Linked DNA regions of Homo sapiens: region 2 is linked to region 1. The links come from fine-mapping of genetic effects on gene expression. Tissue or cell type: whole blood. Region 1 holds a variant in brackets; the other region holds the start of a gene. All regions are shown on one strand. Distances are from middle to middle.

Evidence for each region.
Region 2: it holds the start of DDX18, and the variant in region 1 is fine-mapped to the expression of DDX18 in whole blood (INTERVAL, PIP 0.92).

The regions. Positions count from the first base shown.
Region 1 is chr2:117,860,507-117,865,893 of GRCh38, reverse strand. It overlaps the pseudogene HTR5BP. Among named protein-coding and RNA genes, the nearest start is that of DDX18, 49 kb to the right of the region's middle. The variant T/C (reference allele first, on the strand shown) is at 3,328.
Region 2 is chr2:117,812,594-117,817,980 of GRCh38, reverse strand. DDX18 (DEAD-box helicase 18) reads right to left here and starts at 3,290. Exons shown (of 14, transcript NM_006773.4): 1 at 3,119-3,290; 2 at 253-537. The coding sequence starts at 3,203. RefSeq lists enhancers at 2,433-2,968, 3,044-3,093, 3,114-3,163, 3,294-3,423, 2,969-3,506 and 1 more.

The DNA.
Region 1 (5,387 bases):
AAATAAATATATAAACATAAATGGCTCTGTACAGATTTTGGGTCACTTGGGGCCTACTGCACATAACCTTTATGGCAGTGTGTCATTGTTCAAACAAAACGTCAACAAAGAGGACTGGCTTAGAAAGTCAAATTTTTGTAATACAGCATAATCTAAAATCTATGTTCCAAGTTGCCATAAACCCTAAAGCTCAATACCTCACATTTACTTTGCCCTTCACAGTTTACATAGTGCTTTCCCATACACTATTAAATCTTTCAGATACCATTGTACTTTGGACAGATTTCTAGCAGAGCACTTATAAGACTTTATTGCATTTATAATTCTATAATTATAATCTACTAAAAATCCACTGGGAGCAGGAAAGTGCTTATTCATTCTTTGAAACCTCAGAGGACATTGCCTGGTACATAAGATCAGTAAGTCAATCGAGTAATTTTGAACACTACATTCAATATGTTTTGGGAAATACTTCTCCCGAAGATGAAGCCTAATTCCTCTTTTCTTGAGTGTGAGCTGGACTTAGTGACTCACTGCTAATGAATAGAAAATAATCATATGTGACTTCTGAGACTAAGTCATAAAAGGCACTGCAATTTCCTCCTTGCTTCACTCTCTTGGACGGCTTGCTCTGGGGAAAGTCAGCTATCATGTGGTACCACCCAAGCAGCCCTTTGGAGATGTCCTTTTCTCAAGGATCTGAAGCCTCTTGTCAACAGGCATGTGAGTGCTCCATCTTGGAAGCAAAGTTTCCAGCCTCAGTCAAGCTTTTGAATGACTGCAGCCCCATGCAACATCTTGCCTACAGCCAAAAGAGATGTCAAGTCAGAACCACCCAGCTAAGCCATTCTGAATGCCCAACCCACAGAAACTGTGAATTAATACATGTTTGTTCTTTTAAGCCACTAAACTGTGGGATAATTTTCTACACAAGCAATAAATAATCTACCTATGATTATGAGGAATAGCAATAAGAGAAATAAAATAATACTTTTCTTATTAAAGAGAAATAGAAAAATAACAAAAGTAATGCGGTAGCTATTATTTATGGTTTACTACTTAAGGGACTCCACATATGATAGAATTTCATTTGCTCTTCACAAGAATATTAAAAGACACGTGGTAATATTTCCATTTTACATATGCAGAATTGCAGATGTAGATTAAGTCACTTGGCTGAAGTGCTAATAAGTGGCAGTCAAAAAAATTGAAACCCACGTTTCTTTGTTTCCAAGTCCCATGTTCTTAACCACTGTGTACATTATCTCCCAATATATATTTATTAAGAATGAGTGCAAGAACCCAATTCACAATTGCCAAGATTTGGAACCAACCTAAGTGCCCATTGACGAATGAGTAGATAAAGAAAATGTGGTATATATACATAATGGAATACTACTTGGCCATAAGAAGGAATAAAATAATGTCTTTGGCAGCAACTTGGATGAAGCTAGAGGCCATTATTCTGAGAGAAGTAACTCAGGAATGGAAAACCAAATACCATGTGTTCTCACTTATAAGTGGGAGCTAAGCTATGAATATATGGGAAGGCACACAGAGTGATATAATGGACTTTGGAGACTTAGAAGGGGACACTAGTCTGGTGACAATTGCACTAAAGTCTCAGAATTAACCACTATATAATTCATCCATGTAAACAAAAACCACTTGTAGCCCCAAAGCTATTAAAAAATATATTTAAAAATTTTAAAAAGAAAGCAATAGTACGATTAAAAAAAAGAATGAGGGCAAGATATTAACCAAGGCTTCATTATAATTTGTGTGGTCCCTAGACATCTTTGCCTTAATGTATCCCTTCCTTCATTAAGAAATACTGAAAATTATGTTAAACATTAGTATAAGCAAGTATAAGCAAGACTGGATTCATTATAATATATTCATTAGTGTTATATTCATTTTTCCTCTAATTTTAAAAGAAATTAAAATTAAAATATTTCTATGGGTCCCTAAAAGAATTCTGGTTCTAAGTAGTATGACTACTACGCCTGATGGATAACTAGGTCCCAGCATCAAATTGCACACAGAAATCAAACAAGCAATAGCAAAGAAAAGAGAGAGAGATAGGAAAAAAAAAAAAAACCCTTTTAATGTCACATTTTAAAAGCCAAAGAAATAATGTTTCTTCTTTTCTAAACAGTGAAGGGCACAGGGCAGTAGGAAGTAATCGTAACCCATGGGGCTTGCTTTGGGGTGGGGAGCAGATTATAGTGTACATGGGATGCTCAGAGTCTCAGTTTAAGATGTTGAAAGAAAAGACACCAGGGCAGGAATTAAACCTGTCCCCTGAGGGAAGCAGGCAAGGCTTTTGTGCTCAATTGTGTTCAGCTCTCCTGAAAAGGAGAGTTCACCTGAGTAGTTTTGAGATCCTGCTTCGTGGGACCCACCTTGACTGGGCTGTGACTGCCTCATTCCTCTCAAGCAGAGACACCCATGAGCAGAGGGGCAGGCCTCAGAAGTCAAGTCCCTGGAGATGGCATGGAGTAATGAAAACAGTGATTTCTTTTTTCTTTTTTGAGTCGGAGTCTCGCTCTGTCATCAGGCTGGAATGCAGTGGCACGATCTCGCATCACCGTAACCTCCACCTCCTGGGTTCAAGCAATTCTCCTGCCTCAGCCTCCAGAGTAGCTGGGACTACAGGCATGTGCCACCACACCCAGCTAATTTTTGTATTTTTAGTAGAGATGGGGTTTCACCATGTTGGCCAGGATGGTCTCGATTTCTTGACCTCGTGATCCGCCTGCCTCCGCCTCTCAAAGTGCTGGGATTACAGGCATGAGCCACCGCACCTGGCCAAAAATAGTGATTCTTAGATCTGGTACAACCTTCAGACTCTCTACCCAGGAACTGCGTGGTTTTGGATGAACTAGGTTTGTGGTGCCTTACCATAGTTTTCTCTTGCAGTTTTCTCATCTGTAAAATGAGGGCCTTATGGCAAAGACAGTGCTCACCAGATAGCTACATGCTCCCTTCCAATTCACTGCCAATGGCTGGCCAATGGGCTGCAAATAGTGATGACATGCTTCCAGTTCAGGGTAAGGCAGTAAAAAGCTGGCATATCTCCATACATAGCTCTTCTCCCACAATAAATCTGGAAGGCACATGTGCAAGGCAGCATAGCTAAAAATGATAAATGGCCCAAAATCATGAGAGACTGCCTGGAAGAGAGCTGTGCAGGTATGCAGACCCACATTGAACTTTAAGTCAGAGTGAAATAAACTTCTGGTTTGGGGTTACATGTTACCACAGCATGCCTTAGCTTATCCTGACTAATAGAGACTTAATGCCAACTTTACTGAATTGTGAGAA[T/C]GAAATGAAAGGGTGAATGTAAAGCATCAGAAATGTGTCTGGAAGAGACAATTCACTCAATAAACATTTTTTTCCCTTCTCAACTTTGAAAAACTGCATTTTGCCCCAAAGGATTAATCATTGCCCAAAAACTACATTCTGATAAGACCCCTGTCTTATAATATGTTAGTGTTGGGACCTAGACACGGAATTCTGAAAAAGATGAAGGTCTTACACAGCCTCATCAACAGAGGCCTTCAGGCTTCACATAGGCTCCTGTTCCCTGCAGAAAACAGTACAGACACTTTGCAGAGCCTAAACACAATACAACTCATTTCGCCTGGAGAGTAGAATGATGCAGGTGGGGGAAAGTAGAGAGGAAGTATTCCTGGCGCGGTGTTTTACACTTTTGTTTAGATGTCTTGTTTCCAGAAGGCTTGCAAACGTGGACTCAGGAACATTACCCAGAAGTTTGAGTGAGGGCTTGCTGTGACCCATAGAAGCAGCATGCTCCTGAACACTACCCCATCTACAATCTCAGCATCCTGTGATTCAAGGCCCTTAGACATGACTTAGAAGAATACTGTATGTTAGAGAAGTTGAGGCCCAAAGTGGGGAAGGGCTTGCCCCAGGTCCTCCTGCCGGGAGTGGCTAAATTTTTAACAGTTCCTCTTCCTCTCAGAGCTCTCTCTATCCACCAATGGACACTCCAGATTGGCCAGCCTCTCATCCAGGCACCTCTTCCCTGTGTCACCTGCCTGAATGGGAACTGTCAAAAATGAACACTAAAATCAGGCTTGGCAAGGTTTTCCGGCATCCATTTCACCGTGATTTCTCTAAGTGCGCATTGGATTGACGTAGCTATTAAAAGTCAGCCCTAGCTCGGCAATCAGACAGAAAAGCTATAATCACCCCAGGCATTTCCAAGGGACCTTTCAAAGAACATCATTAATTCTGAATAAAACTCTCCCTCACCAACACTTCCAGTTATAGTCTTGACATTCCTATTTTATGCTGCAAAATTCCTCTGCCATTTAATGTAGAAGAAAAAAGGCCTACTTTAAAAATCACATGTATTTGTCCTGTATTCTAAGTATCTGAGTTAATTTTCCAAAATTAAAACAAAACTAGCAACAAAAAACTTTCCTTGTCTCTTTTTGCTCTCATATGCACCTCTTCCCTCACCCATGTATTGTATTTGCAAAGGGCAATAAATCCTGTTAATCTATAGGACCGGGAGCATGTTACTTGAAACACCTGATACCCTCAAAAGAGAAAGTTGAGGCTTCCAGAGTGAGAAGGATGCTGAGCACCTATTAGATCCTGGCCAAAAGGCAGAAAGCTTCAGACAGAATAATAAATACGGTGAGAGAAGATCTGCCGACTGCAATTTTGCTCATCTCATTACATTTCCAGCATTATCTTCCTCCTCCTTATGGACTGCCAGGCAATATCCTGTTGAACCCCTTCTTTCTCCAGCCAGTCTGCCACCCAGTGTGTGCCAGCCACTATGCCAGGTGCTTTACATTCTTCATCTCACGTAATCCTCACCAAGAGCCCTATCAATTACGAATGAACATGTTTAAAGATGAAGAAATGAGACCCACAGATATTAAGCAACTGTCCTAATGTCCCAAGCTGGGATTTGAATCCATGGTTCTCTTTCCTAAATCACTAGAGGATAGCTCCGGGGTTGAGATAAGGAAAGCAAAGTGACACCAATTATTATATTTTAAAATCCTCACTATTCCCCTTGGCAGGGTGCTGGCTAATGGAGTTGGGGAATAGTCTCTGAACTGCAGAGGATAGACTGGGGTACGGTGGAGACAGAAAATAAGGCGTGATTGGTCACAGGAATTTCTGAAAGACGAATTCCCAGTCCACTGCATCCCCTCTAGGTCTAGTTGGGACAAGGAAGCCGGCGGCTCCAGGACTCACATGGACAGGGGCCCTTGAGGGGGAAAACAACAGATAGTGCAGGTAACAAGATGTGCCCTCATCGCTACTGAGACGGGCTGAACCTACAAGCCCCTCCGGCCATATCGTGCGTCGTGGGTCGGTGTCAGATCTGCCTCCCTAAC
Region 2 (5,387 bases), 48 kb after region 1:
AGTCTTTTCTGAGAGAGGTTTTCTTCAAGGTTAGTGAAATTAAAAATATATTCCTCAATATTTTGAGAAAAGTTGAAATGGACTCCCCGCTTCTGCCAATAAAATGTTTCCATTAGCTACCAGGCTAATCTCTAACATACTGGTGAGTACAGGGAATTCTCATGTCATGTGCACACAATAGTAATAGAAAGAGGAACAATAACCGTCTGTGAAAAACTAAATGGCTGAAGTTCAAAGATAATAAATACCTACCAGGCTCAGCATCATTCACCATTTTTCTCTTTTTCTTCTTTTTCTTTTTTGATTCTGAATTGGAAGACTGCATTGCTGCTTCTCCATTGGTTAATACAGTGGATTTCTGGGGAGACTTTGTAACTTTTATATTTCCCACTGCTTCTTGAGACATGCCTCCATTTTGAGTTTCTGATAAGCCCACATTCATGGGCTTTTGTTTTGATTTTTTAACCTTTCTACTTCCCATTGTTTCTTCAGATACATCTCCATTTTGAGTTTCCGATAGGGTCAGATTTGAGGCCCCTGTTTAAATAAACAGAACATATACTGTGACAAAGAAGGAGAAGTTTACTTAGAAACACTGAAATCCCAAATGAGAACTTCCATGGCTTCCTGACACAAATTATTTAGATTTTCTTCTCTTTCATGTAATTAAAACAACTTATAGTTTTATGGTGTTCCCTTATAGGGAAAGTAAGTTATCTTAAAGAAAAAATACTGGAAAAGGGAAAGCTATATTGATTTCTTAACTGCAAAAGACCGTACATCTGACTTTAAGGAGTCTAGGACAGGAAAACTTCAATGAGGTCAAATATTTAAACAGATGAGGTCAGATAATGGCAGTTACAGAATAAACATAAGTATTTGATAAACATATGATTAACTGATATATTGAAAAAGACATTTACAACTCATTCACACAAGTACTATTTTTCATACCACTTCAAAACATTCAACCCCAACTCTTCTAGACTGCAGTGAGTTGAAAATTCAGTTGATAAGACCACTTATTTGCTCCAATATTTATCATATGCAAATACAGTAATGCGTGCACAATGACATTTCTGTGAATTAAGGACAACATATACAGTGGCTCCATAAGATTATAACGGAGCTAAAAAATTCCTATCACCTAGTGCCATCAGTAACTGCAATGTCGTAGTGCAACATATTACTCATGTTTGTAGTGATGCTAGTATAAACAAATCTACTGTAATGCCAGTCGTATAAAGTACAGCACACATAATTATGTACAATACATAATACGTGATAATAAACTATGTTACTTGTTTATGTGTTTACTATACTTTTGATCATCATTTTAGAGTTTACTCCTTTTACTTATTAAAAAAAAATGAGTCGACTGTAAAAGAGCCTCAGGGAGAGAGGTATTTTAGAAGGCACTGTTATCATAGGAGATGACAGCTCCATGCCTATTGTTGCCCCTGAAGATCTTCCAGTGGGACAAGATGTGGAAGCGGAAGACAGTGAAACTGAATGTGTCTGTGTCTTTACATTTTTAACAAAAAGCTTAAAAAGAAAAAAAAATAAAATAAAAATCACATAGAATAAGGACAAAAGGAAACTTTTTGTACAGCTGTATGTACAATGTGCTTGTGTTGTAAGCTAAGTGTTATTAAAGTCAAAAGGTTAAAATTTAACAAGTTTATAATGTAAAAGTTACAGCAGGCTAAGGTTAATTTAAGAATAAAAGTATTAAAAAACTCAACAGTGTAGCCCAAGTGTACAGTGTTTATAAAGTCTATAGTGTACAGTAATGTTCTAGGCCTTCACATTCACTCACCGCTCACTGACTCGCTCAGGGTAACTTCCAGTCCTGCAAACTCCATTCATGGTAAGTACTGTATACAGAGGTACCATTTTCTAAATCTCTCATGTCATAGTCTTTTTACTGTACCTTTTCTATGTTTAGATATATTTAGCCATACATACACTTACCATTGTGTTACAATTCTCTGAGTATAGTACAGTAACATGCTGTACAGGATGACAGCTTACGAGCAACAGGCTATATCATGTAGCCTGGGTGTGTAGTAGATTTAGGTTTGTGTAACTAGATAAAGTTCGCAAAACGACAAAAGCCCCTAATGACACATTTCTCACAATGTATCCCCCCTCCTGTTATGCGATGCATGACTGTACCTGAGAATGTCCTTACCAAAGGTTCCCTGTTTGTTTACTGAAAAAGATAAAACACCATCTTTTGTTCAAATTTACTTACATATGCGCTGAAAAGTAGTAATGCTGTAGTATTATTCTATAGGAATTAGAAATACAAGAGTATTTCAAAACATATTCCTAAAATTCACAAACCTATTGCCTCCTGCAGAATTTTTTTTCAATTAATGTCTGTTGAAAACCAACTGGGGCAAGGCACTGTGCCTCCAAACTTTCCCTCGGGGAGTTTGTATCTTAACCTGGACAACAGGTTAACACAATTACTTCAAGATCTGTGGCCCCACTGTCAGGACACTGGGACTGCAAATGAGGTAGGTAAGAAAGGTGACATTCAGATAAAATCCTTTTCATTTAGGTCACTGTGCGGGACACAAATACGTAGAAGCTCTGGTGAGAAAGTGCTACGAGAACGTGTGGAAGTGGGTAGAGGAAGGCAATAGTATCAAAGAAGCTCTGTGGAAACAGCCAGACGGGCTTTTGGGGAAAGAAATACGGGAATTAAATAGATGTGAAAAGTGGGTGGAAATGAGACGTTTCATGCAGCATAACCGGAAATGAGGGATGAGGTGAGGTGCGACTTGCAGGTGGTGAGGGAACCAAAAGCTAAGGTGGAAATGCAAAAGGCAGGGTTAGTCGTAAGCCTAGAAGTGAACGGGGAGTCCTCCCGCTCTAACGTTGTAAGAAGACACTGATTGCTCAGAAAGGTCAGGAGCAGCGCTGGAGCCACGCGACGAGTGGGCAGCAGCGCGGGTCCCGAGTGGAAGCTGCCTTTTCACTCTCCCCAATCACACACGCTGCAGGGGAAGCTGCCTCCGTCACACAGAGCAGCTGGGCCCCCGGCCGCCCGAACGCGCCAGGGCTCGCGCGTGGGTCTTCTGAGCCACCGCGAGTCAACGCATCTCACCCTGAAACTTTAGGTTCCGCTGCCGCAATTTGAGGTTCCGCTTCTCGATCTTCTTACGCAGGAGTTTCATCGGCAGGTGTGACATTCTGCCCAACAAGTGCCTAGAATAAGGCGCCACACAGTACAGCTACTCAGTTCTCAGGCTGACGTTACTTCCCTTCCGGCCGCACGTGCGCAGCTCGGCCAACAGGAAACGCGTCACAGGAACGCTGGCACCCGGCGGAACGAAAATGCTCCAGAGCGGAAATGCTTCCAGACGCGCGCACCGTGATATCTTTGGCGACCAAAATCTTTGCAGCGCCCCCTGGAGAAGTGGAAGCGAGACGCTGCACTGGCTTCACACTGTGCTAAAGCTAACTTGAGCTCCCCCTAGAGGAAGACTGAAGAAAGAACGTGGAGGGGAAGGAGGCCTTAGGGAGTCCGCATTTTTATGTTCCTATCCTCTGTGGGTGCAGAACTAGAGTTGGCCCTCCCTGTACCTGAATTCCCTGTCTGTGGATTCAACCAACTCCCCCATTGAAAACATTAAAAAAAAAACAATTAAAAATAATACAGTGTGATAACTACTTTCATAGCATTTAGGTTGTATAAGGTATTATAAGTCATTTAGAAATGATTTAAAGTATACAGGATGTTGTGTGTAAAATAAATGCAAATATTACACTATTGTATATAAGGGTTTTGAGTATCCTAAGATATTGGTACCCATAGAGGGTCCTGGACTCAATCCCTTGTGGATACTGAGGGACAACTGTATTTGGGAAACTGAATAGAACTAAATTATATATATGCATTTCCAAACTTGTTTGGCCACTCTCCTCAGAAATACAATTTCTGTGTCACTTGGTACACATACACACATAAATATAACATTTCTCAAAATAATATTCTTGCTTTTCACTCTTTTTCCTTCAATTCCATTCATTCCATCCTAAATTATTCTTTTTAGCTTACTAAAAATACTGATTCCTATGAATTTAAATTAACTTTACTACATTAATAATAGGTTGACTGCAGTTTGAAAAAGAGGTTTATATATTCCTTAAGTATACCCAAGGACCCTTCAGCAGTCCAGGACAGAAATTGCAATGTGGCTAGCTAATAGTCATCTCTTTTTTGGGATGGGGAGGAAGACAGGGGTATGCATATAGTATTTAATTTTTAAAAAAATTGTTATCAACATTAAAATACTTGGAGATTTCCATAAAAATTCATATTTGTCTTTAAAAATTGGCCCAATGCCCTCAAATTCCCCTTAACAGTAATCAATTTGAGCTGAACAACTGGAAGAGTCCATGAAACCTGGATTAATTTGTTTACTTGGAGGGGCAGAACATGAGACCCTGGAGATTAGACCTGATCATAGTGAGGAACAGAGAGGGAGAAAACTTGGGAGGGAGTTTAAACAGAATGTGAAGGAATTGACTTCGAAATCACATTGGATTGGACTGGAAAACTAAGACAAACAAATAATAATGTGCTTAGATTAATTTGTTAATGATCAGGCAGGCTGAAGAATGATTCAGAAATGTAAGAGCGCACACACACACGCAAACATTTATCTCAGTGTAAATATATATGCCAGTTTAAATTTATGCATATATCAGTATATATATGCATATACACATATGTATCTATTTCTATAGCTCTATGTACATACATATATATTTACCTGATTACATGTGTGAGTTTTGGGTCTGTGACTTTGAAATAGATACAACTGAAGTATATATAGAAAGTGCTCAAAATTTGTTATTTCTTTTATGTTGTAACTTAAATTTGTGGGGCTATGTTTTGGTAGTAGTAATGGAAAGGTACTCCCTTTTTTCTAGAGTGTGACTTTTTCTAGCTAGTAGTGAAGATTGGCAGTCATTTCCTCAAAACCAAAAAAACCCACATTTACGAGGTGTTTAAGACATTTAGATCAGAGAAGCCGATCCTTTCAGGTGCATGGAAATGCTTAACGTTAGGGATTGATAACCTTTTAAGAAACATAGATAAAGCTACTGATGCCAATTCTTCTGGATTTTTAGAAGAAGAATGAGAAATTATAACTTCAAATCAACTCTCAAAATTAGGGTTGAGAGTTATTTTTAACAGAGTGAATTTCCAAGGCCACATCATCAGTTACTCTAGCAAAGAAAACAATGTCATTGGGTTAGCTACTCAAAAATTACCTGTGAGGATGAGGTAACAATCACGTGCTTCTGAAAAGCCTGTTGTTCTTCACAGCTGGAGCCTATCCCAGTATCTATTCAGAATGCGTTTC